4 separate regions of the Homo sapiens genome follow, and regions 2, 3 and 4 are each linked to region 1. The links come from fine-mapping of genetic effects on gene expression. A gene starts in region 1. Each other region holds a variant in brackets. All regions are shown on one strand. Distances are from middle to middle.

Region 1 (8,101 bases):
TACTCTGGAAGCCTAAAACACTTTTCCCTTTAAGCAAAAAAGCAAGCATTCCTTAGCTAGCAATCTCAGGCCAAACTCCCAACAAGCTCATCTCTGCTGTCTTATTCAAATATAAACCATCATGGTTTCAAGCAGTAACAGCACTCGCCTATTTCACACAGCTGACGCCTCTTAGGCCGTCAGGAATTTAAATCACCTTCTTGCCCACAAAGTATTTTTCTTCCAAAACAAACTGAAAAATATAGGCTCTTTGGCAACATTTTTGGAAGTACAACATAAACTTATCACAATAATTTTTAAACTGCAGACAACTAAAGGGAAGGAAGAAAAGCACTACTATATATACATACATATTTGAGGTCACCTCCTCCTGATGCTAGAGACTATCAACTGCTCAAAAGAAGGAAAACAAAATAAAGATTTCAGTCCCCACACTTAGCTGCGAATAGCTAACAAAGGGAATTAACATGCGGTCAATAACAAGAGGCTACTAAAAACTCTGACAGGTTAGGAAGTTTTCATTTCAGTTTCAAATTCAAATTCATACTGTAAAGTGGTGATGAACACATCCCATCCGCAGGTACTTAACCTCCATACAAATAAGAACTACCTCTCATATGGGCAAAAAGATCAAAATTCTACAGAAGAATCTGATGGCTAAATGGCTAATTTGCAAAACACAATGCCCTGTACATTTTGAGGACATCCTAAAACATGTGTAAACTTTTCAGAATTCAGTTTACCAAAGTTATCAAACTTAAAAATGATTAAAATTTATTTGCTACTGCAAAGAATTCAACCAATTTCTCCAATGACTACTCCATATTCATTTTGAAAAACAGTACCGGATTTAAAGCTTACACAACAAAATTCACAAAAGTGTTATATGTGCCTATATGACATATAGGCACAAATAACTGCAGACATTCTGAAGCTAACACTGCTCAACCAGGAAAAAAAAAAGACTGCAATTGGATATGTAATAACAGCTATTTAAGACGGCAGTAACGTGTTAAAATGGTTCATAAAAATCACATCATAAGGCCCTGAAATTCTAGTAAAAATATCTCTAAGTAAACTTGTGAACTACTACTAAATAACTAATTTTCTCTCTCTCTGTAGTCACTCATTTTATCTTTGGATTACTTTCCCATTCTATCACCACGTTGCTTTCTCTGAACTTCATTTTACATTTGCATATTATTTATTCCATTAGCAATTGCTCATCCCAGTCTGAATCTCAAAATTCTACTATAGGAGGCATTTGGCATTCTGTGGAATAAGAGAATTTTGAGATGGAAATGATCAACCAGCTCAAAACCTCGTAAGCTAGAGTTCAGTTAAGCTTAGCACAATGATGAAAACAATTTCTCATTAAAACTTCTTTCATTCCCTCTACAGAAGCAGTAACCCTGGGTACAGTTAAAACTGCCTGGGTCTTTAAGCTTTGTCACCTCGGACAAGTCATTATACCTAACCTCCCAGGGCCTCAGCTTCCAGAGTAGTTAAATGGAAAAACAATAGCATCTATCTCAGGTTATTAGATTATGAAATGAGTTAACACACGCAAACAGGCTGAAAGAGTCCCTGGTGCGCAGTGCAGGTATTAGTCATTTAGAGGTATAGTTACTATTACAGGAAGGTAGTAACTTAGAAAGACTTACCTTTAAGGTCCAACAACCTAATCTACATATTTGTATATTTCTAAGGTAAGAGAATTTTTAAAAGTCTATTTTCACCCCGTAAACCTAATGCAGGAGGATAAGGCACGGGTTACTACAGGAAAAAGTAATGCAGACTGGGGGATGCGAACCAAAGCACAGACGAATGTGCCCCGACGATTCCTCCGAGAACATAATGAAATGGCGGACCTTCCTGCCAGAGGAGCGCACAGTCACCCAGGCAGGTGATGTGACACACACGTTAGGGTCTAAAGGTCCCAAGGCTGGAGTCCCCTTTACTGGACCCTAAACATGTCTGCCTCCTGCCCCGCAATCAGACTTAGAGAACTGTGGACGGTGGAAAGTCTTATCATGACCAGGCCATCCTTCGCTGGGGTGAACGGAAAGCATTCAGAAGGGGAAAATTGAAAACAACAAAGACTCTGGTCAGGTCAAAAAATACAAATGTGACCTCTTCCACCATCTCTGAACTGAAAGAAAAGCATGGCACTTTCCCATCCATAACATGTACAATTTTTTTTTTTGGAGATTTTGCTTTTCCCTTGTGAAAGACGGTTTTAAATAGTAAACAGACTTGCTGCCCACCTTGGCTGGGAAACCAAGTCCCGTGAGTAACTAGTCTAAGGCCACTCAGGCCAGTCCTCGGGGAGCGCACGCCGCCCAGCTCGCTCCCACCGCACAGCTCCCAACAGCTAAGAAGCAACGCCAAGGACTTTCTTCCCCGTCAGACATGCCCTCGGCCACACCAAACTGACATCAAAACCCCAGTTAGCCCAGCCTGACCCCACAGAGGCTCACGATGACAACCGCCCTACGGAAAAACTCAAATTCCTAAACATCTAATAAAGAAGTCCTGGACGTCTCCACCTTAAAAACGGGAAGCCTGAACGCTCCGGCGCGCCCGGCCGTGTAACCGCCACAGCCCCCGCACGCGGGGCGGGCTGGGCTAGCGGGAGATTTGAGCGGCCGCCGCCTCTCGCCGTCTTCGCCTCCTCCAAGGGGCCGCCGCCCAGGAGGCCGCCCGCGGCGCAGAACAAAGCGCCTTGACCTTCAGTGAGGCGGGCAGCCGGGCGAGGCGCGCCGGGAGTTGGGAGGGGCCTCCCGCCAGCGCCCCAGGCCCGGGCTCCAGGCCCCAAGCCCCAGGCCCCGCCGCGGCCGCCGCTGCCTGCCCCGACCAGAACGCGGCCCCGCCCCTGCCCCACCGCCCCGAGGCTTCCAGAGATGGCCGCCGCCGCGCCCGCGCCGGACCCGCGGCCCCACCCGCCCGTCCGGGCCCGGCCGCCCTCCCCAGCGCGCCGTTACCGGCCCAGCACCCGTGTCTCCGCACCTCACGCCTCCTGCGGCAGTGGCGGCGACCCTAGCTTCGCTCGCTTTGGGGCTGCGCCGCCGTGGCCTCCAACAACGCCGGCTCCCATTGGCCGAGGCTCCTAGCTCCTCTCTCCGCGAGCAAGACAGGCTGCGATTCGCCGAGCGCGGCGCAAGTCAACTGCGCTTCGCGCCGCAGTCAGCAACCAATCACAAGCCTCCGAAGAAACGCCGCGCCATATGCAAATATTCCTCCGCGCGGCGCGCGCCCTGCGTTCCTCCGCCTCTTTAAATGGGGCGGGGCAAGGTGGAGACCGCGTGTGTGGTTCCGGGGGGTCCCGGGTCCCCGCTCCCGGGACCTTCCCCGGGTGGCACCACATCCTCGCGGGACACTGGGCACCACCCCTCTCCGTGGGCCCCGGCCCCAGCCGTCTTTATCTCCTGCGCCCTCCCAGTTCCCTAGTTCAATCCCGTCCGCGGCGGGTCGGTGCCTCCAGCACTCCGTGCGCCCGCTGATGTGAGAACCCCACCTCCCATGTCGTCCCCTCGCGCTACTCCTTGAGAACATCGCGGAGGGCCCCTCCGCCTGGGAGCCGTTTTCAACCAGCCCCGTTAGTGGTTGGGACGTAAGCCTAACCCCCGCTCATCCCCCAGGTCCCAGGTTGGAGAACACTTCCTCTGCGAAGAGGTCGGGGCTGGGTCACCTCCGCGGACAGGACGGGACTAGCCACTGCCTGCATCTCTTCCCCCACGCCCTGAGCCCCGCAGTGTCCCAGCAGCCTAGTTCTGGCCTGCGGGAGACCCTGTCGGACAAGGAGGAAAAGCAGTGCGCACTGGGCCCTCAGATCAGCCCCCTGAAGCAGAGCAGGGCAGAGGGCTGGGGAGGAGCTGGCCTGTTTCGCCCGCCCTGTTCTCCCTCTCATGGTGCCCTCTGGGCTGGGGTGAAGGTACCAGCCCCAGCCTGTGCACATCACATTTTGTAGAAAGGCATCCAATTTGATTGGAAAATAACCCCTACGCTGGGACTTTTGAGGCTGGTTCATTTCCATGTTCAACCGTGCCATTGGGGGTCTTCAAGTCTAATGTGCATTTTTTTCAGAAACGTTCTCTTTTGGGATGACGTTACTTTTGAAACAATTGCTAATTATTATTATTATTAGCAAGTTATTCCTGTAATGGGGAAAATTTGAAACCATTTAAAGGCTCCTGGTTGAGGGATTAAGAACATAGCGTCGGTTATAAACCTCAGAGGTAAGCTGGGAGGCTGAGGCAGGAGGATTCCTTGAGCCCAGAAATTCAAGTCCAGCCTGGGCAACATAGTGAAACCTCATCTCTAAAAAGAAATTAATGCGGAGCGCCGTGGCTCAGGCCTGTAAACCCAGCACTCTGGGAGGCAGAGGCAACAAGTCCAGCCTGGGCAACATAGAGCACCCTTCCCCTGCTCCAAAAACAACAACAACAAAAAATTACCCAGGCGTGGTGGCTCAGGCCTGTAATACCAGCTACTTGGGAGGCTGAGGTGGGAGAATTACCTGAGCCCGTGAGGTCAAGGCTGCAGTGAGCAGAGATTGGGCCACTGCACTCCAGCCTGGGTAACCAGAGGGGGACATTGTCTCAAAAAGACAAAAAAAAGGCCGGGCGCGGTGGCTCAAGCCTGTAATCCCAGCACTTTGGGAGGCCGAGGTGGGCCGATCACGATGTCAGGAGATCGAGACCATCCTGGCTAACACGGTGAAACCCCGTCTCTACTAAAAATACAAAAAAATTAGCCGTGCATTGTGGCGGACGCCCTAGTCCCAGCTACTCGGGAGGCTGAGGCAGGAGAATGGCGTGAACCCGGGAGGCGGAGCTTACAGTGTGAGCCGAGATCGCACCACTGCACTCCAGCCTGGGCGACAGAGCGAGACTCCATCTCAAAAAATAAAAAATAAAAAAAAAACTAATTAAAACAAAAAACATAAAAACCCCTCAGAGGTGACCGGTGCATGGCTGAGGCCTGACCCACACAGCGTGCTCAGTCCTGTCTGGCCATCTGTGTTTTAGGAGAGGGTGTGTGTGCTCTCAATTCCTATTTTACTTATTTAGACTTTCAGACTTTTCTACAAAGGTCATGCTTTATGCTTTGCGGAAGCATAAACAATGATAGAAATGACACAAGAACCTGGGCATTTGAAGTTTGGAGGGTCCTTCCTCCCATCTAATAAAGTCTCAAGACCATTTGCAGTAATGGGATCCCCCTGCTCCTGGATGTTGGGGTTGGTGGGGGTGGCATCCGGGTGGGTGGATCCTCTGAGGGAGCTGGGCCTTGGGGCTGGGGGCAGCTGGACCTGCTCCCTGGGAGATCTGCTGGAACTGGAATGATTGTGGTGGTGGTGTTTTTCTCTTGGTGGTTGGTGGTTTCTCTCCTTGGAAGATTCTCATTTGGAAATAGAGTCTTCACAGATGCAATTAGGTAATGAGGTCGAGTGGGCAGATTGCTTGAGCCCAAGAGTTCGAGACCAGCCTGGGCAACATGATGAGATCCCATCTCTACCAAATATCTAAAAATTAGCTAGGCATGGTGGTGCATCTATAGTCCCAGCTGCTTGAGAGGCTGAGGTGGGAGGATCACTTGTGCCTGGGATTTAGAGGCTGCAGTGAGCTGTGATCATGCCACTGCACTCCAGCCTGGGTGACAGAGCAAGACCAAGACCCTGTGTCAAAACAAAGAAGTCCCCAGATGACACTGACATGCAGCCAGAGCTGAGGGCCACTGGGATCAGGACTCCCAGGGTAGCTGGCGCTTGGTGAGTTTCATTCCTGTTTTCCCAGCGCTGCCTCTGCCAGGCCTCAGGCATGAGCCCACCTGTCTACAACCCCTCTGCTGCCTCAGCCTCCTCCAACCTGGAGATCAAGAGTCCCCTCCAGAGGCTACCTTGCCTGTAGTTCTGCTCTTGGCTGCCTTGTCCTCACTGAGGCTCCGGGAGACAGTCCCGGACAGACACCACGTGTTTCTTCTTCACATTGCCAGCACCCGGAAAAGTGCCTGGCACTTGGCGAGCTGTGCCCTTACCTGGGCGCTACTGACAATGGCTACACCTTGGCCTGGAAGTAGAGGCAGCAATCACTGCCCCATTCAACAGAGGAGAAAACAGAGAAACCCCTCTAACGCCCCCAGCTAAGTGGCTCTGGCCCTGGAGGGGGCGGCCATGCCCTTCACCTGTGGTGGGGGCGCTACTCCTCAAAAGACCTCGCAGCCGCCAAGAGCTGGAGCCGAGGCCTCAGAAATGCCCAAAGCCCCCTCAGTAGGCTGGGGGCTCAGCCTGTGGGGCATTAACAAAGTGGGGCCCTGGAGACATCCAAGAGAGGTGGCTGGTTTCTCCTGGTATATGGAGAACAGAAAACACCCATGGCGTACTCCACACAAGAGGGGTGCGCAGACAGGGAGTGCCTTTGCAAGCTTCCCGGCCTCAGAAAGAAGGCATCTGGAAGACTGTACCCCAAATGTTGTAGGGATTTGAGAGGTAGGGCACGGGGTCTTTCAGTTTCTACTTTATATTGGAAGTTTTCCGTATTATTTATTTTTAAATAATGAATACATGACGTTTTTATAGTAAAGACACCAAAGATTGCTCTTTGGGGAAAAACAGGAAGATGTAAATCTGGCTCTTACAGCTGAACAGAGCTTTCATGTACAGAAAAGAAACACTTTCCACAGGCAAACTAATATTATACAAGAAAAGTGTCCACCCCACGTTGTTCCAGAAGGATCTGCTGCAGCCTGACAGCAAGAGATTGCAGGGTAGGGAGGTGCTGGGGTCCTCTTGGGGGCCAAGCCAATGGCCTGGGCCCAGCCAGCCTATTGTCACTGCAGGCCCTCGGACCCAGCCTGGGGAGACTGGAGGAAGTCAGGGAAGGGCAGAGAGAAGGCGCACCGGGCAGTGGGCCCTCAGAACGGGGAAACTCCAGGCAGAAAAGCGGCCCAGAATCACTCTGAATTGGGGGGCGTGAAACAGGGGCCACAGCCTGGCCCTACTGCAGTCCAGGTGGAGCCAGGCCTTCACCAGCTGTGGGGACCAGGCGTGCCCCTGGCAATCTGGATACGTTTTTGTGCAGCCACCACTGGAAATGGGGCACACGCCACTCCTTCTTGCCTCCTTGGATGGCACCGCGGCTTTGGGCCAACCTCCGCTCACCCCAGTGGTGGCAGCTAAAGACAAGGGTATTTCCTCATGGCCCAGTTGTCAGGATATTTGATACATGGTTTCCAGCACAGGCCAGTAAAGAGGATACACTGTGGAAGGGATTGCTGCTGCTGCAGTGCCGGCTGCACTTCATCAGTTTCCTTGGCTAAAGGATACTGAGTTACAGGTTTCAGGCTACTTTGTATCTCATTAAAGACACCTCTCCATGCAGCCGCCATTATCACACTAACAAAATTAGCAAAAATCTTGACTGTCATCCAATACCTGGTCATTCAAATTTCTTGAAATTTTTTTTTTTTTTTTTTTTTTGAGACGGAGTTTCGCTCTTGTTGCCCAGGCTGGAGTGCAATGGCGAGATCTCGGCTCACCGCAACCTCCACCTCCCGGGTTCGAGCGATTCTCCCGCCTCAGCCTCCGGAGTAGCTGGCATGTGCCACCATGCCCAACTAATTTTTTTGTATTTTTAGTAGAGACAGGGTTTCTCCATGTTGGTCAAGCTAGTCTTGAACTCTCCACCTCAGGTGATCCGCCTGCCTCAGCCTCCCAAAGTGCTGGGATTACAGGCATGAGCCACTGTGCCCGACCCCCTTTGAAATGTCTTTACAGCAGGTTTGTTCAAATCCTTCAAAGATTATCCCTCAAACCTGGTGGTTTTGTTTCTCGAGTCTCTCCCAGTCCTTCTCTTCTGCCCTATTCTGCTCCCTTTGACGCAGACGTATTGAAGATGCCAGCCGGGCATCTGGCAGAATGCCCCACCTTCTGCACAAATGTGGTGGCTGCTTCATGGCCTCACCTGCATTCTCCCTCTGTTCCCAGTATTTCCTGCAGACAGGAAGTGAGCTGGACAGCCTTGCTCCTGAGGGGGCTGTAGCCCGGCAGCACAGGCCACAGCTGGGAGACTGCAGGAATGCAGAATCTTGGGCTCCTCCT
Region 2 (8,101 bases), 35 kb before region 1:
TGCTCTGTTCCTCAGACTTCTCCTCTTCAAGCGTATTCCCCCCACAACAAGGACAGCAGCTTGGACTACATATCTGGCTGATGATGTAATAAAAAGATTAGGCATGGGGGTTTCCTAAGCCACAATTCAGGGCCACTCTGCACCAACAGAGATAAGCACCCAGGTGGAAGCCCCCCTTCCCCGAGCCTCATACATTGTCATCATCTTCTATGGCCTCCCCAGTGAAGTACAGCACAGCCCGCGGGACTATCCGCTCACGGAAAAAGTGTCCAATTTCAAAATCAGAGGCTAATGTGAATTCAGAATCTTCATCCTGAGGAGGAAAAACCTACGTGTTAACTCATTTTAATGGGATAAAAACATTCACTTCACCACCCTCAGCCAAACCTCAGCCCCTCACTTTTGATTTACTTAACTTAAAACACCAAACTCCTGCACTGCTGGGGGACAGCCACTAGACACTCAAAGCCCCTTTAAAACAACTTTAAGTAGCTTTAAAGAGCTACTGAAGCAAAATGGCAGAGAAAGTGGGAAGTGAGGGCCCTACAGCTCCACAACTTGTCCAAAGGTCTCACCCAGAGTAGGCGGTATCAGTCTCACATATGGGAAACAGGCAGTATTAAAGCACTGCACATTTGCTACTGAAATCAACATATGAAACACATACTTTTACTTAGATGTGTAATGATTTCAAATTAATCCCAGAGTTTTAGGAAACAGAAATGGATTTTTTTTTTTTAAGAGACAGGGTCTTATTCTATCACCCAGGTTGGAGGGCAGTGGTGCAATCACAGCTCACTCCAGCCTCAAGCTCCTGGGCCCCAGCGACCCTGGAACTACACAGTGCACCACCATGTCCAGCTAATTTATTATTTTATCTTTTGAGACGGAGTCTTGCTCTGTCGCCCAATGGAATACGGTGGTGCAATCTCAGCTCACTGCAACCTCCTCCTCTCGGGTTCAAGTGATTCTCCTGCTTGAGCCTCCTGAGTAGCTGAGATTACAGGCGCTGCCACCGTGTCCAACTAATTTTTTTTTTTTTTGGTATTTTAAGCAGAAACGGGGTTTCACCATGTTGACCAGACTGGTCTTGAACTCCTGACCTCTGGTGATCCACCCACCTTGGCCTCCCACAGTGCTGGTATTACGGGCGTGAACCACCATGTTCGGCTGGCTAATTTATTTGGTTTTAATTTTTTGTGGAGATGGGGTTGTGCTATGTTGCCCAGGCTGGTCTCAAACTCCTGGACTCGTGCAGTCCTCCCACCTCAGCCTCCCAAAGCATTAAGATCACTGGCATACCCAGTCCACACACAGCCAGGACTGGACTTTTTTTAACAAGTAGACAAGTAGACATTCACTCAGGAGAGACTTCAACAGGAAAATAAGACTATTAACAACAAATCTTACCAGTGATTCTCCATCCCCGGATGCTAGAAAAAGAAAAGACAAAACATATTTAAATTACAGTGACAACTCCCAGAATTTTAAAGCCCACACAGGAGGAAGCTGTGCTGGTAGATAAAATGTAACATTTCTCACCTCGAGGTTTAACAGAAATCCCCAAAGCCTTGCATCTCCTCACAGACATCTTTGCAAGCTCCATCCACCACTTCTGAAGCTGGCCTGAGTGCCTCTATGCCCCCCTCCCTTCTCCTCCTCCATCATGTGCCATGGGCTGGCACTCAAGCTTGAGAAGATCATTTTGAGAGAGTTAATATATTAACAGGAGGAATGGCAAACAGCCCCCAGGCTGTGGCCATTCAGTGCATTTGTGCTTTATGGGGAAACTTAACTCATGTCCCGCAGAACTATACATGATGGTGCAGGAAAGAGAAAGTCCTTAAGCCTTATAAGCTGTGAGTGTTACTAAGGCACTGCAAATCAGCGAGACAGAAACTGCATTTCTGTTTGTTTGGAGAGTGCTGGAATGCCCACCAGGGGCCCCTGTAGAGTGGCGCAATTCCTCAGCGAAAGCTGATGCTCAGACGAGCTAAGCCCACCAAGACAGATAGGGACTTCTAACCACACTCAATGAAGCTGTGCAACGTTCAACTGGTAGAAGATCCAACCCCCTGATTTTAGAAACATTTACTACAAGACCCTGAGCTTCATCAGGAGTTGAATGTTTACTCTGCTTAGTCTCATACCTGCCTTTTCAATCTTCACTGGGCTCTCCTCTCTGAGTCTCCCTTCCCATTAAGCGACCACAACCCTGGCAGCACTTGCTGTTTGCTGCTGAGACATGAATGTTGGGTGCGTAAACACCACCCATGAGTGAGGCAGAGTTCCCAAGCCTCGGTGTGCCAGCATCACCCAGGGGTTTTAGACATGGGTTAGGAGCATGGCTGGGTGTCTAAATGCTGGAGCAGCATGCTCCCCAGGGCACTCTGGCCCAAGTCATGAATAGTACAAGGACTCTGAACACTCATACTTCTGGACTGGCTTTGCAGTTTTAAGGACAAAGGAGCTGGACTCACTAGCTAATGCCTCCTTCACTTCACACCACAGGAGTCCATTTTGTCTGTTCCTTCACTACCCCATTACCTATTCCGCAGCCATCCTCAATTTTTTTCAAAGCACTTACCATTTGGTATTATGTGTTTGATTACTTTAAAAGTGGCTTTACTGATGGGATTTACATACCATTAAAAGGCATACACTCTAAATGTACAACTTTATGACTTTCAGTACGTTAATTTTAGAGTTGTGCAACCATCATACCCTAAAAGTTTTAGAATCTAAAAAAAAAAACACTTAAAAATTCCCTTGAGTCCATTATCAACTCCATTTTTATCCTAAAAATTATTTTTAAATCAGTTTTAAGAGAACTTCCTACACAAAGTGATTCCAGAAATTAAAGCCTCCCTTCTTCACGCTGAATTCACAGACAATCTCCAGTATGCCCAACCCAAGTGTCTAAAAGGAATCTTCCAAAAAAAGGAAATGTAATATCTAAATTTATGACTGCTCTCATTCCCCAAACCGTATGTATTTGCATCTTCTAGGTTCAAAGTCTAATTGCAGAAAATAGGCACCACAATTAAAATAATGGACTGAACTCTGAAGGGCAGCTTGATAAATAAGGGTGCTAAGCTCAGAGACAAAATCAAAAAATCAATCACTCAGACTGGAGAAGAGATCCGCCCTGTGGCCCCACATACAAACAAACACTCACTGATTATCTGCAGCAGGGGCTGGCATCTCT[T/C]CACTTCAAATTATGTTTTAGTTCATGGAAACTAAAGAGAATATGGATATTTTAACACTGACAAGTTGCTTGACCTTCACATTTTCTCGCGATTAGGAAATTATATGAAAAATCCCAAGAAATTTACTCTTAAAATCAATTGGTCAACCTTTACTAGCTCAAAGGTCTCATCTTTATTTTACCACTTAGGAAAATTTAAAAAATAAATAAATAAACAAAAAGAAGCAGCTTCCAAGCTGTGATTCTGCCGATGTTTTTCAAAAATGAAAGTCCCAACTACTTGTGTTTCTTACAATATATAAATTCCAAAAAATTCTATCAAATTATGCATAAAAAATTACAAGAAAAGGGGGACTAAGCAGATGATCCAAAAGCAGCACAACTAGAACCAGCGTACAGCAGTAACGGGTACCTGCAGAGCAAACCCAGCAGCTCTCCGAGGCTGGGAGTGGTCCCCGGGGGGTGCGAACCAGACACAACAGCGGGGCAGAAATGCCAGCTGGTGGAGAAGGGTGCTCCAGGTGTCCAAGTGAGGAAGCAGCCCAGGTGCAAATACTCGATTCAGTTTTCTTAAAACAGAACTGCAAGTTTTTGCCTGGGCTACAGCCAAGCAGAGTAAAGCTCTTCCCTTTCCTGCAGAAGATGACAATCCTACTCTTACTGTCCTAGCTACCTCTGCCCCCCGCGATAAACTTGCCAGCGCACCAACAGAACAGCCTGGGACACAGCAATGTGCCCCTACTGACCACACTTGCCTGAAAAAAGAGGACTAAAGTCTCTGGGTGTTAGGAATCTATCAGGTGACCAAAATTATTTTATATAAGAACATAATGAATATTAACAACCAACAGACTTGCCTTTCAATGGATTGAAGAAGTTGAAAAAGGACTCATTGGGTACTTGTTTCGTAATTGTTCTAACAGTGCCTCGACCCTTATGCTTCTGCTTTTTCTTGATGGTTTTGACAGTAACATTCTTTCCTTTCTTCCAGTCAATAGTACACCTACCAGGACAAGACAGCTGTCAGGAACACACAATCCATGAGAAAAATCCATTACAAATGCATGCAGGAAGCAAACCACAGCTCTATGCCAAACCTGGAAAACGAAATAAAACCAATCTGCAAACCAAATACAATGGCCCATGAAGTTCATCTGGAGGTTGGCAAAAAGAGAAACAGCCTGGTCCTCTTTCAACTTGGGTGTGACCACTGGAACTTCAGACTTCTGGAACAATGGTATTATTTTCCCAAGACATTTCATCAGGACTCTGAAATGTATATTCTGTGGCAAAGCCCCGTCAAGTCTGCATGATGCACAAGAACTTGTCCGCGGTTTCCCAAGGAAGGAGGAGTTGCTGCTGTTCAAAGCAGCCAACTGAGCACGACAAGCTGAAAAAAGGAAAGAGGTGGCCACCGGGAATACTGATGGCCAGTGCAGACCACTCCAGCCCCAGGGATGCTGGCGAGGGCTGAGCACAGCACGCTCTCTCTAACACACAATCACCACAGACCCAGGCAACACCTGGCAGATCTCAATACTGCCCGCTTAAGAACATGCTTGGTAAGGCCAGGCCTTTTTCTCACATGATGTCCTGGCCCTGGAAAATCATCTTTCTAAATTACTCTAGCAGGATTTTAATAAAGTCCTGAATTAACAATTACTATTTACTTCTGGTAAATAAACGTAATTGTTTCAAGTCAAGACTAAAACCATTTCTCAGTCAACCCAACCTGGAGAAATTAATTCTAAACCAAATTCTCTCTTTAGTGATTTATAAAGACTGAAATCAGTGAGTCAAACAACAGCTATGCTGCCCCCACCTATTTCCAAAGCAATCAGCTGATCAATATAGCCCTGGACTCAGACTCATTCATTCAATAAGTATTTATTTGCTGAGGGTAATCCATGGATTCAATTTTAAGAACTTCAATTCACGATGTCTAGAGAATCCACTACTTTCATTAAAATGAAGAAACAGGGCACTATCCCAAAGGCTTGCATGTGCAACCACGTGACTCATTTCCCAGGTTCAGCCGCCATCTCCAAGTTCTGCACTATGAGCATTCCCAAACTGAAAGACTATTGAAATATACATCTACCAGGCTTTTAGGCTTTTAAGCAGACTCAAGACTGTACTTTATTCCTTACTTCTATCTTACCCATCAAGTTACAAAATTATCTTTTGATTTTGTTTCAGAAAAACAAGGTAGAATGACATTTTCTTACCCGTCACAGTCCACAATCTCAGGACCTTCAAAGGAAAAGGGATCAGCCTTATCTGGTTCTGATTTCATCTTGTAGGTTTTTGTCAGGACTGAGTTGGTAAAGTAGTCGTTGGGTTCAAAGTGGAACTCTAACACAAAAGACTAAAAGTAGAAATTCAGAGTAAGCACCAGTTAAAATAGAAAAATAACGAGGACAGATTGCTTGGAGTACACAACACTTACTAGAAGCTATTTTGGGAAAGCTCAACAGATAGGGCCATGAACAAGAAAAACTTCTCCACCGCAAAAAAGACTAGCGTGAGGTTAAAAAAACCAACGATGGACTGGCGGGAAATATCTGTTCAGTTCATGAGTAAGGGGCATGTTCCCCCTCCAATGCCTCCTCACCAATAGGCGTCAAGCTCTCCTAAGAAATCCTAGCTTCTCTTAGCTGCTCCCAGCCCTTGCTTCCTGGAAGGAGGGAAGGTGACTAGGGGAAAGTAAGGGGACCAGCAGTCCATCCTCCTCCTGTCCTTTTCCGCTCAGCCTAAGCCCCAGCCCCCACCCTGCTGGGGGAAGCCAGGGTCTCTACTCTGTGCTGTGCAGTGAAAGCAGTGACCCACAGCTTTTCTCCCGGGAGGTGGGTGGGAGAAAAGGACAAATCTCTACAAGGACAGAAAGCTCATCCCTCACTTACAAAGCACGCTACAGACCTGGAAGAGACGTGAGCACACCGGGAAAAAGGATGCAAACATGAACGCAGGCATAGAACAACCAACAGCAGCAACAAGGCATTCATGCTCACGAGTAACAAAACACATGAACACCAAAATGAGATGCCTTTCTTTGGGGCAAAATGTACAAAAATATGTAGACCCGGCCAGGATTTTGGGGTACTGAGCACACTCATGTACTGTCGACAGATTTTATGAAGGACAATTTGGCAATATCAAAAAAAATTAAATTAAAAGGCATATTCCCTGACTCAGTAATTCTATTTTGAGGAATTTGTTCTATTTGAGAAAAATACCTGGATGGATGCATCGATATGTGCAAAGACATTGACCTCATCCCTATTTATAGAAGAAAAACATGGAAGATGCGCTTGGTTGAGTAATTTATAGACAGTTTACAAGACCAGTTCTACGCTCAGACAGCCTGGATTCAAATCCCATCTCTGCCTACACTGCTAGGCAACTCGCGGAAGCTACTCAATGTCTCCGTGCTTTAGTTTCCTCATCTCTACACTGGAAATAACTCTCTCCCTCTCTAGGAGCTGCCTTGGTGGTTAATCTGTATCACTTAGAGCCGCGTTTATAGGCAAGGCTGGCTAAATGTCAGCTGTTTCCATTTTCATTGTAATGGTAAAACCATCAACGGGGGGGAAATTAAGAGGACTAAAAAAAATATACAGCAAAAAAAGTTTATACATTCAAACAAACCACTTGCACAAAGGAGAAGTGAAAAAACAACTTTCAAAGAAAGGTGGAGGAGGAGGCGGGGCATGAGGGCTTAGGAAGTCAGGATCAGGGAGACAGTCTAGTCGGTTTCTAGAAGGGATGACAGCAGGATCTGGCTAGGAGCTCTCCACTGGCCTTGGCAAGAGCAAAGGAAGCGGGTAGGGCACTGCAGATGAACCACACAAACGAAAGGCCAGTCACCTGCCTGGCAAAAATCACAAGGAAAGGAAGAGGCAGCTACAGGGAATCAGCATCAAATAAAATGCCTATTTCTCTCCCAACCCTCCACGGCTTAAAAAAAAAAAAAAAACCAACATAAAGAGGGAAGACAAGTAGCCAACCAATGGAGAGACTGCTATGATTCCAGAACTGTTTAAGGCTGTGACCACAGTGTGGACAACCAACCCAGGGCATGGGGTGGCCCCAATAAAACAAATAGTACTATTAGACTTGTGGTCCTTCACCATGTCCTACTCATTTTTTCCCCTCCTTTTTACTTTCTCTTTTAAAGACCAGTTCTCCCTATGTTGCCCAGGCTGGTCTTGAACTCCTGGGGTCAAGCAATCCTCCCACCTTGGCCTCCTAAAGTGCTGGGATTACAGGCATGAGCTACCACACCCAGCCTACTTTTCTATAGATAGATTCATGTTTCTTCCTATTTTCCTTTTTTCTCTCCCCTCTGCCTTTGTTCAGTCAAGAGTAACCCAAAGACAACTGAAGATGATTCAAGAAACTGTTTAGCTGCCCAAATGAAAAGTGGCTTGAAAATAAGACTGCTTCATTCACACACGCACTACAGCCAGGTAAGCCATAAATATGCTAACCATGCTCAATCTTACAAGCAACTAAAGAAATGCAAAATTAGGCAGGGCCTGAGTGGCTCATGTCTGTAATCCCAACTGAACGACCTTTGGGCCTTCTAAAGCTTCATCTTCTTTGACTGGTAAGTACACTGAAAGGAACCTAAACTAAGGAAACCATCAAACATTTAATTTAACACAAATTTGGGTTCAAGTATGCTGATCATAATGCAACAATTTACAATGGGGGAGGTGGGGCATGTAGGGGAATGTTAAACTGTTTTATAGCCAATGGCTGCAGTAACAACTATTCCCCCAGCCAAGCCTGTGTGATGTGGCAGCAGGGTGACACTGTGCACACACCATGTGGTGTGGCAGGAGCCGTGTGGCACACGTGTGCACTGTGTATCCAGGTAGGCAAGCGCTC
Region 3 (8,101 bases), 54 kb before region 1:
TGGCCCCATGCCCTGCACAGGGCTCAGATTGCAGAATCGCTGGGGCAGCCTTCTCACAGCGCAGATGCTCACCCTCCTGGCCTGAACTTCTCATTCCGCCGGTCTGGGGGAGCCCTGGCAGGTGTATTGTCATTAATTATTTCCAACGTTAAAAAATTACCAAAGATAGGCCAGGTGCTGTGACTTGTGCCAGTAATCCAGGGCTGCTTTGGGAGGACCAAGTGGGAGGATTACTTGAAAACAGGAGTTCAAGACCAGCCTGGGCAAGACAGCAAGACTCCATCTCTTAAAAAAAAAAAAAAAAAGTCCAGGCGCGGTGGCTCACGCTTGTAATCCCAGCACTTTGGGAGGCCGAGGCGGGTGGATCACAAGGTCAGGAGATCAACACCGCAGTGAAACCCCGTCTCTACTAAAAATACAAAAAATTAGCCGGGTGTGGTGGCCAGCACCTGTAGTCCCAGCTACTCGGGAGGCTGAGACAGGAGAATGGCGTGAACCCGGGAGGCAGAGCTTGCAGTGAACCGAGATCGTGCCACTGCACTCCAGCCTGGGTGACAGAGCGAGACTCCATCTCAAAAAAAAAAAAACACGCCTACCAAAAATATTAACCAATTGTTGATATAAAAAGTAAAAAAGAGGCTCGAATTATTTCAGAATTGATGCTGGGCACAGTGGCTCGCGCCTGTAATCCCAGCACTTTGGGAGGCCAAGGCAGGCAGATCACTTGCAGTCAGGAGTTGGAGACCAGCCTGGCCAACATGGTGAAACCCCGTCTTTACTAAAAATGCAAAAAAAAAAAAAAAAAAAAAAAAATTAGCCGGGCATGGTGGTGCACACCTGTAATCCCAGCTACTCAGCAGGCTGAGGCAGGAGAATTGCTTGAACCTGGGAGGTGGAGGTTGCAGTGACCTGAGATTGCACCATTGCACTCCAGCCTGGGCAACAGAGCAAGAAAAAATGAAAAAAAAAAAAAAATAATAAAAACAAAATTGAGTGTTCATCTCTCATGTCCCCACCTAGGGCCACTCTCATCCTTTTTTGTTTGTTTGTTTGAGATGGGGTCTTGCTCTGTTGCCCAGACTGAGTGCAGTGGCGTGATCTTGGCTCACTGCAACCTCCGCCTCCCAGGCTCAAGCAATCCTCTCGCCTCAGCCTCCTGAGTAGCTGGGACCACAGGTGTGTACCTCCATACCCAGCTAATTTTTTGTATTTTTGTAGAGACAGGGTTTCACCGTGTTGCCCATGCTGGTCCTGAACTCCTGAGCTCAAGCAATCCACCCATGTCAGCCTCCCAAAGTGCTGAGATTACAGACATGAGCCACTGAGCCTGGCCTCTTTTTGTTTTATTATTATTATAAATTTTTGAGACAGGGTCTTGCTCTGTCACCCAGACTGGAGTGCAGTGGTGCAATAATGGCTCACTGCAGCCTTGACCTCCTGAGGTTGTGATCCTCCCACCTCAGCCTTCTGAGTAGCTGGGACTACAAGGCACATGCCACCATGCCTGGCTACTTTGTATATTTTTTGTAGAGATGGGGTCTCACTGTGTTTCCCAAGCTGGTCTTGAACTCCTGGGCTCAGGCAATCCGCCTGCCTCATCCTCCCAAAGTATTGGAATTACAGGTGTGAGCCACTGTGCCTGGCCTCATCCTTTTTAAAAAAGCATTTACATTTCCTTTAACAATTGATTTTTGTTTGTTTGTTTTTGAGACGGAGTCCCACTCTGTCATCCAGGCTAGAGTGCAGTGGCACGTTCTTGGCTCTCTGCAACCTCCGCCTCCTGGGTTCAAGTGATTCTCCTGCCTCAGCCCCCTGAGTAGCTGGGACTACAGGCATGTGGCACCACGCCCGGCTAATTTTTTTGTATTTTTAGTAAAGATGGGGTTTCACCATGTTGTCCAGGCTGGTCTTGAACTCCTGCCCTCAGGTGATCCACTTGCCTTGGCCTCCCAAAGTGGTGGGATTACAGGAGTGAGCCACAGCACCCAACCTCCTTTAATAATTAAATATAGGATTGCCCTGTGATCCAACAATTCCACTTCTCATTCACATGCTCACAAGAACTAAAAGTTAGAGTCTCTCCTAGAGATCCATGCACACCCATATTCCCAGCAGCATGCCAAAAGGTAGAAGCCACCAAGTATCCACTGACAATGGGCACACACGATGTGGTCCACACACACACTGAATAGTCACTGCCTTAAAATGGAAGGGAAATCTGGTCGGGCACGTGGCTCACACCTGTAATCCCAGCACTTTGGGAGGCCAAGGCAGGTGGATCACCTGAAAAATTGGCCAGGCGTGGTGATGCCTGCCTGTAATCCCAGCTACTTGGAAGGCTGAGGCAGGAGAATCGCTTGAACCCAGGAGGCGGAGGTTGCGGTGAGCCAAGATTGCACCATTGCACACCAGCCTGGGCAACAAGAGTGAAACTCCATCTCAAAAAAAAAAAAAAAAAAAAGGAAGGGAATTCTAACACAAGCTACAGCACGGATGGACTCTGAGGACACTATGCTGAGTGAAATAAGCCAGACACAAAAAGACAAGTACTGAATGATTCCACATGTACCAGGTCCCAAGAGTCGTCAGATTCAGAGACAGAAGGTAGGAGGGCAGGTGCCAGGAGCTGGAGAGGACAATGGGGAGTTTAATAGGGACACAGTTTCCATTTGGGGAGATGAGAAATCATGGAGGCAGATGCTGATGGCGGCTGCATGACAGTGTGAATATGCTTAGTGTGAATATACTCAGTGTGAATACGCTCAGTGTGAATATGCTGAGTATGCTCGGTGTGAATATGCTCAGTGTGAATATGCTCAGTGTGAATATGCTCGGTGTGAATACGCTCGGTGTGAATACGCTCGGTGTGAATATGCTGTGTGAAAATGCTCGGTGTGAATACGCTTGGTGTGAATACGCTTGTAATATGCTCGGTGTGAATATGCTTTGTGTGAATATGCTTTGTGTGAAAATGCTTAGTGTGAATACGCTCAGTGTGAATACGCTCGGTGTGAATATGCTCGGTGTGAATATGCTCGGTGTGGTGTGAATATGCTTGTAATATGCTCGGTGTGAATATGCTTTGTGTGAATATGCTTTGTGTGAAAATGCTTAGTGTGAATACGCTTAGTGTGAATACGCTCGGTGTGAATATGCTCGGTGTGAATATGCTCGGTGTGAATACGCTTAGTGTGAATACGCTCGGTGTGAATATGCTCGGTGTGAATATGCTCGGTGTGGTGTGAATATGCTTGTAATATGCTCGGTGTGAATATGCTCAGTGTGAAAATGCTTAGTGTGAATACGCTTAGTGTGAATATGCTTGGTGTGAATATGCTCGGTGTGAATATGCTTGGTGTGAATATGCTTGTAATATGCTCGGTGTGAATATGCTTTGTGTGAATATGCTGTGAATATGCTCAGTGTGAAAATGCTTAGTGTGAATACGCTTAGTGTGAATACGCTTAGTGTGAATATGCTTAGTGTGAATACGCTTAGTGTGAATATGCTCGGTGTGAATATGCTTAGTGTGAATACGCTGTGAATACGCTTAGTGTGAATATGCTCGGTGTGAATATGCTCGGTGTGAATATGCTCGGTGTGGTGTGAATATGCTTGTAATATGCTCGGTGTAAATATGCTCAGTGTGAAAATGCTTAGTGTGAATACGCTTAGTGTGAATATGCTTGGTGTGAATATGCTCGGTGTGAATATGCTTGGTGTGAATATGCTTGTAATATGCTCGGTGTGAATATGCTTTGTGTGAATATGCTTTGTGTGAATATGCTCAGTGTGAAAATGCTTAGTGTGAATACGCTTAGTGTGAATATGCTCGGTGTGAATATGCTCGGTGTGAATATGCTTAGTGTGAATACGCTGTGAATACGCTTAGTGTGAATATGCTGTGTGAATATGCTTAGTGTAACTATGCTTAGTGGCACTGAACTGTGCACTTTAAAAAATGGTTAAGAATGTAACTTGTGATGTACCCTTTACCAGTTTTAAAAATGCATTTACATATGAATATCCATGCAGGCGGGGGTATGAGCTTGTGTCTCTTCCTCTGTCTGGGCCATCTTCCAGGAACCCCCCACCCCAGCCCTCATTATCTGGAATCCTCCATGTCTCAGCCACCCCTTGTGATGGTTGGGCTTGGGCTGGGTCCCTGTTGCTGTCATCTTACATGGCACTGCCTTCCTGCACACCAGACATGGCACTGCTGGGCTAGCAAGGCCCTCAGATGTGTGGTAACTGCCAAAATGGCCTGCCAGTGGGGCTGTTCCTATT[C/T]ACCCTTTCCCCCAAGGGCTGCAATGCCAATCTCCCCATGGCTAGGCCAATGGTGGGCACTCTGTACTTAAAAAAAAAAGTCAATCTGGGCAATAGCTCACGCCTGTAATCCAACACTTTGGGAGGTCAAGGTGAGTGGATCACTTGGGTTCAGGAGTTTGAGACCAGCCTGGCCCACATGGTGAAACCCTGTCTCTACTAAGAATAGAAAAAATTACCCTAGTGCAGTGGCATGCACCTGTAATCCCAGCTACTCGGGAGGCTGGGGCAGAAGAATTGCTTCACCCTGGGAGGTAGAGGTTGCAGTGAGCTGAGAAAGTGTCACTGCACTCCAGCCTGGGCCATAGAGTGAGACCCTGTCTCAGGAAAAACCAAACAACCAAACAAACGAACAAAACAACAACAACAACAACAACAAAACCCCACAATCTGGTGGTCAAAAACTGAGGTCTTCACACACATTTCTCTATCCCTGGGGTGGGGGCAGCCATCTCTCTGGGTGTCTGTGGCCTTTGGCGTGGCTGTCTTTTCCCCTCTTCATGTGCTTTGGTCTGTTTGAAAGACCCCTTTCATGGACTGAATGGTGGCCCCCAATAAGACATATCCATGTTCTACTCCCTGAAACCCACGAATGTTACCTTTGATGGCAAATGGGTGAACATGACCTTAGTGGCTAGGGTGTGATATAGGAAAGGCCCCTGAGAGCAGGAGCTTCCCCTGGACTACCCAGGTGGGCCTCACAAGGGAGAACTATGGAGAAGCAGGCATAGGGGTAGGAGGCCACGTGAGACAGAGGCAGAAATCGGAAGGAAGTGGCTGCAAGCCAAGGAATGCCTGGAGCCCCCAGATGACGAGGAAGGGTCCCCACATAAGGTCTGGTGTTCTGGTCCTTGGGGAGGGCAGCCCCTGCTGAAAAGGGGCAGGTTGAGACCCAGGGACCACTTCAGGCCCTCGCTGGCGGCCCCCAGGCTGGGGGCAGCAGACTCTAGCAACTCTGGCCAGTGCCTGCACCTGAGGCCCCATCTCCAGGCGTTCCCTCTTGTCCTCCCAGCCCTGCACCCGCCTTGCTCAGTGAGGCACTGTCCTCCCTCCTCGGACTGGCTTCCAGCCAGGCAGGCACTGGTGAGGGCCGGTGTGGGCAGCCCTGCCATGCCCAGGGTCTGGGTTCTGAGGAGGTGAAGCTTCTCCCCATGTCCCAGATACAGAAACTGAGACCTAGGGAGATTTGGAAACTTGGTGGACACCACAGACTTCTTGAGGAGCTCGACAAGGGTGATCTGTGTGGGTCCGCCCTGAGTGGGGTCCTGGACACAGCTGTAGCTGCCCCGTTTCTCCTGGGCTGGGCTGGGCTGGGCCAGGCTGTTGGGTTGTCATGGTAAGTAACATCCGGCTGCCACCCTCAGAGAGCCATGAGTCAGCATGGCCAGGATGGGCTAGTGATTGGCACCTTGGGGACAGCCTAGCAGGCGGGGCCTCCCTCAGGCACACCAAGGTGACCTGGCCTCGGCAAGAGGCGTCCAGGCCTCACCCTGCAAGAGCTGGGCCCTGGCTTCTGTCCTGAGACTCGGGTCTGCATCTCTTAAATGGGGAATGTCCCAGGCGCATGAGGTGCCTGGAAACCCACACCAAATTCAGCGCATCAGAAGCTCAGCCAGGGCCAGCCCGAGGAGGCGTCCTTCCAGGAGGCCCTGCTGTTGGGGGCCACTGCTTGCCAGTGTCTCCTGGTGGGTGGGGTCCAAACAGCTGGGCCTGGGGTCCCTTGGGCCCCCCACTCCACATGGGGATGCTCCCTGGGGCGGGCTGGGGAGGAGGTGCCTGCTCCAGCAGAAGGAACCTGGGAAGGCACCTGTTCTGAGGGTTTTGGGGCAGAGGCCGAAGTCCATGCCAGGCTGTGGCCAGGCTGGCCTGGCTGGCAGGGAACCACAGGCTTCTGCACACAGCAACCCCTTCTGCAGGCCCAGGGCTCCCTCAGGGCACTGCAGCTGGAGTTGGCTGAGTCTGGGACGGTCACTTCTCCCACCGCTGCCCCTGGCTGTTCCTCTGTTGCTCACCAGTTGCCCAGCCCTGAGCCCTGACTCAGAGCCAGGCAAGCCAAGGACCCAGCAGGGGCAGGTCAGAGGTCAGTAATATCAAGGTGTGCCTGGATGAGCCAGGCAGAGGCCAGGGGCTCCACCTACCCACCTGGCTGGCTGGTGGAGCCAGCTGGCTGCCCCCTACCCACCCCACCCCTGCCTCCCACCTCAGGGGCAAGCTTGGATCCTGGCAGCTCATGCTGACTCAGCCTGCCCAGCGATGGGGCTGGGGGCAGCCTAGGGCATTTTGAGAGTGGGACAAGATGGGTGGGGTGGCAGGAAGCCCTGGACCTGGGACTTGGGGAAGGGGGCTCTGGCCCCATGGGTGGCCCTTGGGCCTGGGGAGGTTTGCTGGGCAGCAGGACAGGAGCAGAGTGGGATGTCGGCTTGGTCCCAGCTCCACATAAACGGGAGTCATGAGCCTAGAGAGCAGACTGGCCAGGTAGGCTGACCTGGGGTACACACCACCCGCGGACCCACACGCCAGGCAGCTGTGGACAAGGGTCCCAGGTGACCCTGCTGGGGAAAGCAGCAGCCATCAGGTTCTAGGGAGCCATAGCTCCTGACTCAAGGGAAAAAACAGAATTTTAAGTGGAATCACCCTGTTTTGGGGACTTCTGAAAACTGAGCTTCAGGCCAGGCACGGTGGCTCACACGTGTAATCCCAGCACTTTGGGAGGCCAAGGTGGGTAGTTCACCTGAGGTCAGGAGTTCGAGACCAGCCTGGCCAACATGGTGAAACCCCATCTCTACTAAAAATACAAAAATTAGCCAGGTGCAGTGGTGCATGCCTGTCATCCCAACTACTTGGGAGACTGGGCAGGAGAATCGCTTGAACCTGGGAGGTGGAGATTGCAGTGAGCCGAGATGGTGTCACTGCACTCCAGGCTGGGCAATGGAGCGAGTCTCCGTCTCAAAAAAAAAAACAACGCTGAGCTTCATTGAGGACTAACTTATATACAACCAAATATACCCATTTTTGATGTAACTCAATGAATTCTGACAGACGTATACACCTGTGTAACCACTTCCATCCCTCTAAAGCGTTCCTTGGTCAGTCCCCCCACCCCAGATCCCTCCCAGGCAGTCACCGGCACTATAGCTTTGCAGGCTCTAGAACCGGACAGAAACAGGGCCCTCCAGGTCTTCTGTGCCTGGCTGCTTGCCGTGCGGGTTCTTTCCCTCCTTGCCCAGGAGCACCCGTGTGATGGCAGCTGACAGAAGCGTCTGAGCCACCTGTGCAGGGGGTGGGGGTGCCCCAGGCCCCACCTCCCATCTCCCGGGCTGCTCCCCAAACTCCTGCCCTGACCCCAGCGCCACTGGTTTTGAGTCTCAGTTCCCGCACAGGGTGAACAGTCACAGGAAGGGCAGGGGCTGGGGGAGCCCCAAGCGGGGTGGGGTGGGTGGGGCGGGGCTGGACGGTGAATGTCTGCCTCCCCAGCCAGGGGCTGAGTCGGGAAAAAGGAGGGCCTGGGCTAGCAGAGCTGAGGTTCTGTGGCAGACCCCCTGGCCTCCAGGACCAGAAGGGAAGCAGCCACCCTTCACCCAGGCCAGGCTGGGCGGCCGCCACAAGCCCCCACTTCCCAGCTGCCTTCCAGATGGTGGCTCTGGGCAAACCTCTCAACCACTCAGCGACTTTCGGTGACCACTGATGGCTGAGGTTCCTGAGCTGACAATGGCCTGGGCCTGGGATGGTTCCTGGGCTCCTTGGCCACTGGAGAATGACCTTCCCTTTTCTGAGA
Region 4 (8,101 bases), 21 kb after region 1:
TGAATAGGCTGGTCCAGGCTTGGTTCAGTTTGATTCCAGTGCTTTGAAATGCTGAGGGCATCAGGTGTTGGAAAGGGGCGATGGTGCTTATGTGGTCAGGGCAAGTGCGCCCACCGCTGCCTGTTAGGGGCTCAGTCAGGCCCAGGCCCCTCTCCAGAGCACTTGTGGCAGCCCAGCAGCCCAGCAGCCCGGCCAGCCTCTCCTCTCACCCAGTGTCCTGCACTCTCCTGCAGCCTGTGGAGCCCCGAGCTCCCGAAACTCTTTCCTGCCCTCCTGCCTCCTGCTCCACTGTCCCCTGCCCGAAACAGGCCCAGATTCGGCTCCTCCGCCTCTCGGCCCCTCCACCCACCCAGGCTTCCTGATCCTTCCTCAAGGTGCAGCTTCTCCTAGAGGCTTGCTGGGTCTCTGTCTGCTCTGTCTTCAGCATGCCCTGCCTGGATGCTGCCCCACTGTGACCCTCCATAATGGGCTCTGCACAGATGGGGACCAGGTGGATCCTAGGTCAGACTTCCCACCACACAGAGGCCCCCTGGGGAGGGAGAATTAGCACAGCAGGTGATGGAGTAGCACTCGAGGTCAGTGTGACCCGGCCAGGGCTCTCCTTTCCTCTTTTGGAGGATCATGGTGGTAAATGAGGCAATGTGCAGAAAGCAGTGGGCAGGGCCCAGCACATCCTAAGTCCTCAGTGTGTGTTCCCAGCTGTGCTGTTACTCACCAATTCAGAACCACTCACAGGAAGAAGCAAAGGCCTGCCTGATGCTGCTTTTTGCTGTGTTTAACACTTTCTTAAAACTGGCAGTCAAAACGAATGCTCAGATTCAGCACTTTCTAAGTCTTAAACCACACACATCTCAGAAATTTCAAAAGATGAAGGAATGGCCAGGCGCGGTGGCTCACGCCTGTACTCCCAGCACTTTGGGAGGCCGAGGCGGGTGGATCACGAGGTCAGGAGATCGAGACCATCCTGGCCAACACGGTGAAACCCCATCTCTGCTAAAAAAAAAAAAAATACAAAAAATTAGCCGGGCGCGGTGGCAGGCGCCTGTAGTCCCAGCTACTCAGGAGGCTGAGGCAGAAGAATGGCGTGAACCCGGGAGGCGGAGCTTGCAGTGAGCCGAGATCGCGCCACTGCACTCCAGCCTGGGAGACAGAGTGAGACTCCATCTCAAACAAACAAACAAACAAAAAGATGAAGGAATGGCTGCTTATGGACAGTGAGGGGCCACTGTGTGAACCCCAAGTTCAAGCATTCATCTGGCATGCCTGAGCAGAAAAGGGAACCCTGGAAGCTGCAGCTCGGCTCCACTCGGCAGCAGGAACGAGCCACACCTCAGCGCACCCAGCCTACCAGGTCACCAGGAACAAAAATAAGCCCCAGTGTGAGCCAAATGGCAGGTGGTGACTGGGCTGGTCAGAGGACCCACCATTCTGCCTCGGCTCAGAGAAGGAGAGGCAAATCAACCCTGGCCCATCATATCACATCCTCGGTCCCCACTGCCCACTCAGCTGCACTCACTCGAGGATTCTGCCCTGCAGGGACATGTGGGGCTGTGGTGACTGGAGCGTGTGGTACTAATGCACCTGGTGGGTCCAGGCCCGGGATGCCGTTCAACACCCTGTGGTGCACGGGGCAGCCTTCCCAGAGGATGATCCGGCCTGAACGCCATAGTGCCTCGGGGGAGACGCCCGGTCCGGGGAGCCCAGTGAGGGGAGTGGCTCCCACACTCTTTCCAGCAACTGGTCCTCACCTTTTTGCTCTCGGGCAATCTTCCGCACTCCTTCTCGGAATTCTGATAACACCTGAAGGTAGGGCATGACTGTGGCCTCGAGCTGCGGAAAGAACAGTTTTGGTTCACTGAGAGCTGCTCACACTCCCATATTCATAACAGAATAATAGCTCAGTGGCCGCGACACAGGGCAGGGACTGGCATGGGCAGTGCTGCTGTGCACACTACAGCTGTGACCGGCATCCCAGAGCCTGGACGCTCTCGTCCCTGACACACAGTCCCTGCTAGGTGTGCGAGTCACACAGACTCTCAGGCCAGAGAGCATGAAGTGAGCTTCCTTTCTACTGCAGCAGGTGGGTCTGCCGCCGCTCTGCCCAGCTGCTGACAGGCCCTGCTTTCCTCAGGTCAGACACGCTGCTGTGAAACAGCTTGTCTTTATGGTTTCAGAGGGGCCAGCTCTGGGAGGGACTATTTCCTAAGGAGCCCAAGGACATCACTCCCCAGGCTGGGGCCTTACCTATGCTGAGGCTGGCGGCTCCCGGGCCGTGCTTTCGTCTGATCTGTGGTCACACATACACTTGTTTAAGATGAATGATCTCCATTAAGCACCTACTATCTACATGCACATTAGCAGCTACACGTAGATTCACCACCCACAGTAACACTGGGGAGGTGGCCACAGGATAGAAAAACCTTTCTACTATATTTCCCTTTTTTTTTTTTTTTTTTTTTTTTAAGACGGAATCTTGCTCTGTTGCCAGGCTGGAGTGCAATGGTGTGATCTCGGCTCACTGCAACCTCAGCCTCCCAGGTTCAAGCGATTCACCTGCCTCAGCCTCCCGAGTAGCTGGGATTACAGGCAAGCGCCACCACGCCTGGCTAATTTTTGTATTTTCAGTAGAGATGAGGTTTCACCTTGTTGGCCAGGATGGTCTCAATCTCCTAACCTTGTGATCTGCCCGCCTTGGCCTCCCAAAGCATTTCCCCTTTTTTTTTTTGAGATGGAGTTTTGCTCTCATTGCCCAGACTGGCATGCAATGGCGATCTCGGCTCACCGCAACCTCCACCTTCCAGGTTCAAGCGATTCTCCTGCCTCAGCCTCCCGCGTAGCTGGGATTACAGGCATGCGCCACTACGCCCAGCTAATTTTGTATTTTTAGTAGAGACAGGGTTTCTCCATGTTGGTCAGGCTGGTCTCGAACTCCCGACCTCAGGTGATTCACCCACCTCAGCCTCCCAAAGTGCTGGGATTACAGGCGTGAGCCACCATGCTGTGCTAGCATTTCTCTTTTTCTAATAGGACAGAAAAGGTTTTAGGCTTTTGAGCAAGGTTGCTCCCTGCCCCTTAGCTGATTCAGCAGCTCAGTAACCAAAATAAAAACATTAGCAAGTGCTGGCTGGGCGCGGTGACTCACAACTGTAATCCCAGCACTTTGGGAGGGCGAAGTGGGTGGATCATGAGGTCAGGAGTTCAAGACTAGCCTGGCCAACATAGTGAAACCCCCGTCTCTACTAAAATACAAAAAAAAATTAGCCGGGCATGGTGGTGCATGCCTGTAGTCCCAGCTACTCAGGAGGCTGAGGCAGGAGAATCACTTGAACTCGGGAGGCAGAGGGTGCAGTGACCGGAGATTGCGCTACTGCACTCCAGCTGTGGAAAGAAGAGTTTTTGTTCGCTGAGAGCTGCTCACACTCCTATATCCATAACTGAATAATAGCTCAGCGGCCACGACACAGGGCAGGGACTGGCATGGGCGACAGAGTGAGACTCTGTCTCAAAAACAGAAACACACAAATTTAGCAAGTGCAAAAGTCAGGCAGGCTAGCAAGCCCTTAAGTCTAAGCCAAGCTCCCTGAGACCCAATTCTGCATCTGAACTTTGGACTTCTTGGGGGTTTTCGATCTGTATCTCCACCCACCACACAGCCAGCCCAGACAAGCCTTGGGGAAGGACAGAAAGGGAGGCATTCACCCCACTGCTAGGCTCAGTTCCAGCCCTAGGGGCACTGGAGGGGAACTCTCAGAATGGCTGCAGGGGTGTGTCTCAAGAACGCCTGGGGCTGCAACCCCCACCTGAGCATGCTAGCAGGTGGCTGTGTGGCGACACTGAGGTGGTACAAGATGGAGGAACTGCCTCCCTTGCTCCTAAAACCATTTGGATTTGGAAGTTAATCCATGAACGTCAAATGGCCATGATGTGTGGGCACAGGACGTTTTGTCAGCAGGCTCACCATTCGCCGCAGCTGCTTCTTCGCAATCAGCTGACTGCAAAGGCCAAATGAGGCTGCCTGGGGGATGCGGATGCGTGTCCACAGCACGCTGAAGGCACCCCCACAACCACAGCAGCCGTTAAGATGAAAAACACTGCAGTTCAAAGGCAGGCTGACTTTAACCCAGGAGGTGTGTTTTGGTTTTTTGTTTTTAAAGAAAATAAATATCTTAGTATCATTTGCGCAAGAGAACAAAGAAGCTATGTGGGTTTTCTTAAAAGCACCAAAGAAGGTTCATATCAGGAAGTCTCAAAAATACCACACCAACTACCACAACCAAGCTAGCTAGCGCTAAGGCTGGCAAAAGGCACCAGGCACATGGGCTAGGTGCTCTGGCAGGACTTCTTACAACACGGACTGTTTTCTCTTTGCAAGTTGGTTCCTGGGGGAGCATCTGTAAGCTCCATCCGCATGGGGGCTCTTCACACCACTTGTCATTAGGAAACAGGATTTTAAAAAGGTTTTGCATTTTGACTTTGTATTAAGCTCCTGTTTTAATTAAAATTACAGTTGTTCTATTTAAATATTTAGATCTGCATTCTAATCGAATAGTCAAAGAGCATTCTTGACCTGGGAGCAGGTGGAAGTCCATCTTTAAGAAGCCTGACTGTGGGTGTGTCAGACGGGACAGGGGTTCTACAGCAGAAGGA[C/T]AGGACTGACAGTGTGTGTCTGCTCACATGCCAACTGCAAACAGAAGCCAGCAACAGACTGCCAGGGTGTTCTGGATGGATTTTCTCACCGCACAGACCCACTAGACAGGGGGCTCTACAGGATGACCTCCCCCTGACCTGTGGGCCACAGCTCTGGGGCAGGGGGTCCTGGCTCAGGCCATGTGGACCGACCTGGGCTCAGGGTCAGGACTGGGCCTGTTAGGGCATCTGCCCAGCCCCATGGGGACCGAGGCAGACAGTGGCGTATCTCCCCATCAGTGTAAATTCTGTGCTGTTTGTGAGCTCTGCAGCCTTTCGATGAAGCATTTACTGAATACAGGTCAGTATATGTGACGAAGTCATGTGTGTTCATGATGCCAAGTGGCCGCAGCAAAATGCAAATAAGCAGCGGCCTATGTAGTTGGGGTCCAAGACCAAGCTCATGGGACAGCACAATGGCAAAGTGCCCCAAACCAACAGTCACAACCAAAGCAGACCCTCCACACCGGCAGGGCAGCTGACCACACTTAGCACTCTCAGAGCCAGAATTGCCATTTAGCTCGAGGCGCTGTCCGGAAGGGTCTGGTGTGGGTGGGCAGACAGAGGAGGGGCAGTTCAGAGGGACACAGAGGGGTAGGGAGTGGGGAGGGAGCAGGTGCAGAAGGCAGGACCCTGCATGCTACTCACACTGAGGCTGGTTCCAGGCCCTCCGACCGGGAATCCCAGGGAGCTGTCCTCTTCTACGGCCCCAAAGATCTAGGAAAAGAAACAGATGGGACCTGAAGCTGCGGCAAGATGAAGGCGGCATGTGGCGAGCAGCTGTGAGCTGTGTTCCTCGTTCACGGGAGGGGGTGCCCCAAGACCAGGAAAGAGATGGAAGCAGCAGCTCCAGGAGCCCCAGAAACCCGAGCCTGAGGGTGCCCTCATTGCTCCAGGATGGCCCTGACTCACAGCTACCCTCTCCAGCTCTGTTTCAGCCAGAAGCCACTGGAGCCCAACAACAAGGAAAGAGGAGGAGAGGGGAGGGGAGTTGAGTCCAGGCCCTGCTGGCCTTTCAAGGTGCACTGCGGGGAAGGGCTCTGCACAGGATGTGTTCAGAGAGGAGGCCTTGTCCCTGGTTTTGCTTCTCTTTTTTTTTTTTTTTTGAGATGGAATCTCACTCTGTCGCCCAGGCTGGAGTGCAATGGCGCAATCTTGGCTCACTGCAAGCTCTGCCTCCTGGGTTCATGCCATTCTCCTGCCTCAGCCTCCCGAGTAGCTGGAACTACAGGAACCCGCCACCATGCCTGGCTAGTTTTTTGTATTTTTTTTAGTAGAGACGGGGTTTCACCGTGTTAGTCAGGATGGTCTCCATCTCCTGACCTTGTGATCCGCCCGCCTTGGCCTCCCAAAGTGCTGGGATTACAGGCGTGAGCCACAGCGCCTGGCGTGGTTTTGCTTTTCAAACTCCAAGATGGGAGTAGAGGGAAACGGAGTCAAAGGAAAGAAATAGCTCTGAGTAAGGACAACTATATGGATGTTACTTATTTTTGTCTGGTTTTGAGACAGGGTCTCCCCTCTATTGCCCAGAGTGGAGTGCAGTAGTGCAATCACACCTCACTATTCAACCTCCTGGGCTCAAGCGAGCCCCTCACCTCAGCCTCCCAAGCAGCTGGAAAACAGGTGTGTGCCACCACACCTGGCTAATTTTTAATATATTTTATAGACCCGGGATCTCACTATGTTGTCCAGGCTGGTTTTGAACTCCTGGGCTCAGGTGATACACTCACCTGGCCTCCCACAGTGTTGGATTATAGATGTGAGCCACTGTGCTCCGCTTATGGGTGTTATTTCTAACGCGTGAAAAGCACACCAGGAACCAAAGAGGACAGAAGCATATCTCCACGTCTCAGAGGTGCTGGGCACCAGGCACAGCACTGGGGGGCACCAGAGGCCTCTGTTCTCCCAGTCCTGGGGCCTGGCTCCTGTGTCCACACAGGCTGAGGGATACGCCTGCCTGGGGCCTGGCTTACCTTCAGCATATGGGTGAGGTACAGGGCGATGTTCTCCAGCAGAGCCTGGTTGGGCCTCTTCCTCACGGCTTTCCGGGCTGCCATATAGAGGTTGCACTGACTGACCAAGGCCCGCATCTCTTCCATGACGGTGCGGGTGTCAACATTGTCACAGAGGGCTTTGTGAATTGCTGTCTTCTTGTCATAAAAGCTGAGCAACAAAGAGGAAGGAATGTGAAGTCAGACCTGAAAACACACCATAGAAATTCCCCATGTGGCCAGGCGCAGTGGCTCACGCCTATAATCCCAGCACTTTGGGAGGCTGAGGTGGGCGGATCACCTGAGGTCGGGAGTTCGAGACCAGCCTGACAAACATGGAGAGACCCCCACCTCTACTAAAAATCTGAAATTAGCCAGGTATGGTGGCGCATGCCTGTAACCCCAGCTACTCGGGAGGCTGAGGCAGGAGAATCGCTCGAACCCGGGAGGTGGAGGTTGTGGTGAGCCGAGATCACGCCACTGCACTCCAGCCTGGGCAACAAGGGCGAAACTCCGTCTCAAAAAGAAAAAACAAAAAAGAAATTCTCCATGCACTTCAACACCCAGAGCAGCTCCCATTAGCAGAGCCGCCTATCCTGAATTAATTCTGCACAACGTACGACAGTGTCCCCAGCCCTTCCTCGACAGTCCAGGACACATGGTGGCCAAGATGCGAGGCTAGGCATAGAACATGGGCATGCTCAAAAACCCCAAAGAAATGGCACCACCTTACTTCTTATTCAGTTCTGCTTCTTCTTCTCCCCACTTCTCAAACTGACCAGTGATGTCAACAGGAGCGCGAAGGATATCTTTCACATTTAAGAAAAACTCCTGAAGTTAGAAAAATCAGTTTAACAGCATTTAGGCAACTTTTCCATCCTGAAATATCTGTTACAACTTTCTACTGCTGTGATTTTATTTTTGGTAAAAATCTGAAAGACCAGAATTACACAAGTGGTCAGAAAGAAAGGAAAAGATATTTCTTTGACAGAAACATGCTCTTGCTTTAGGTTTACAGATGCTCATTTGGTGGAAAGTACAAGTCAGAAGGACGTGCACTGCAGTGACTAGGAGGACGAGGCCTCTGTCCACTCTGCTGAGCCGTCAGCCATTTCAGGAGTGGCCCCGAGCCTGTTATACCCACTAGCATGGAGGTGCTTCCACCCATGTGCTGGTCTCCATTAGAGACATCGGGAGGCTGGTGCACCTATCACCACTGCACAAGGTGCCCACTGTGCAGGGGAGGCTGCTCCACCAACCTCCAGGAAGGGGCTGGGGACTCACATTCAAGAACTTCTCATATTGAAGCGCTGACTCCATGGTGTTGCTGGAGTAGTCCAGGGTGTCCTTCCACGAGTGCATGAGGAAGGCCAGCCGCAACTGCCGTGCTGTGGGGGGACACAAGACAGCCAACGCCCTTATTC

What was found.
Region 2: its variant is fine-mapped to the expression of NAP1L4 in sun-exposed skin (GTEx, PIP 0.96).
Region 3: its variant is fine-mapped to the expression of NAP1L4 in whole blood (TOPMed, PIP 0.98).
Region 4: its variant is fine-mapped to the expression of NAP1L4 in whole blood (TOPMed, PIP above 0.99). The same link has a PIP of 0.9 or more in blood mononuclear cells.

What each region holds. Positions count from the first base shown.
Region 1 is chr11:2,989,245-2,997,345 of GRCh38, forward strand. NAP1L4 (nucleosome assembly protein 1 like 4) reads right to left here and starts at 3,085. Exons shown (of 16, transcript NM_005969.4): 1 at 3,010-3,085. RefSeq lists enhancers at 1,654-2,510, 3,055-3,349.
Region 2 is chr11:2,954,334-2,962,434 of GRCh38, forward strand. NAP1L4 (nucleosome assembly protein 1 like 4) reads right to left here. Exons shown (of 16, transcript NM_005969.4): 9 at 5,437-5,576; 10 at 4,066-4,211; 11 at 1,411-1,433; 12 at 194-313. Among named protein-coding and RNA genes, the nearest start is that of SNORA54, 5.5 kb to the right of the region's middle. RefSeq lists an enhancer at 6,510-7,016. The variant T/C (reference allele first, on the strand shown) is at 3,209.
Region 3 is chr11:2,935,024-2,943,124 of GRCh38, forward strand. No RefSeq gene overlaps it. Among named protein-coding and RNA genes, the nearest start is that of PHLDA2, 9.7 kb to the left of the region's middle. RefSeq lists a silencer at 5,086-5,262. The variant C/T (reference allele first, on the strand shown) is at 4,288.
Region 4 is chr11:3,010,447-3,018,547 of GRCh38, forward strand. CARS1 (cysteinyl-tRNA synthetase 1) reads right to left here. Exons shown (of 23, transcript NM_001014437.3): 14 at 7,962-8,065; 15 at 7,411-7,508; 16 at 6,660-6,849; 17 at 5,335-5,403; 18 at 1,749-1,830. Among named protein-coding and RNA genes, the nearest start is that of CARS1-AS1, 15 kb to the right of the region's middle. RefSeq lists an enhancer at 3,969-4,468. The variant C/T (reference allele first, on the strand shown) is at 4,648.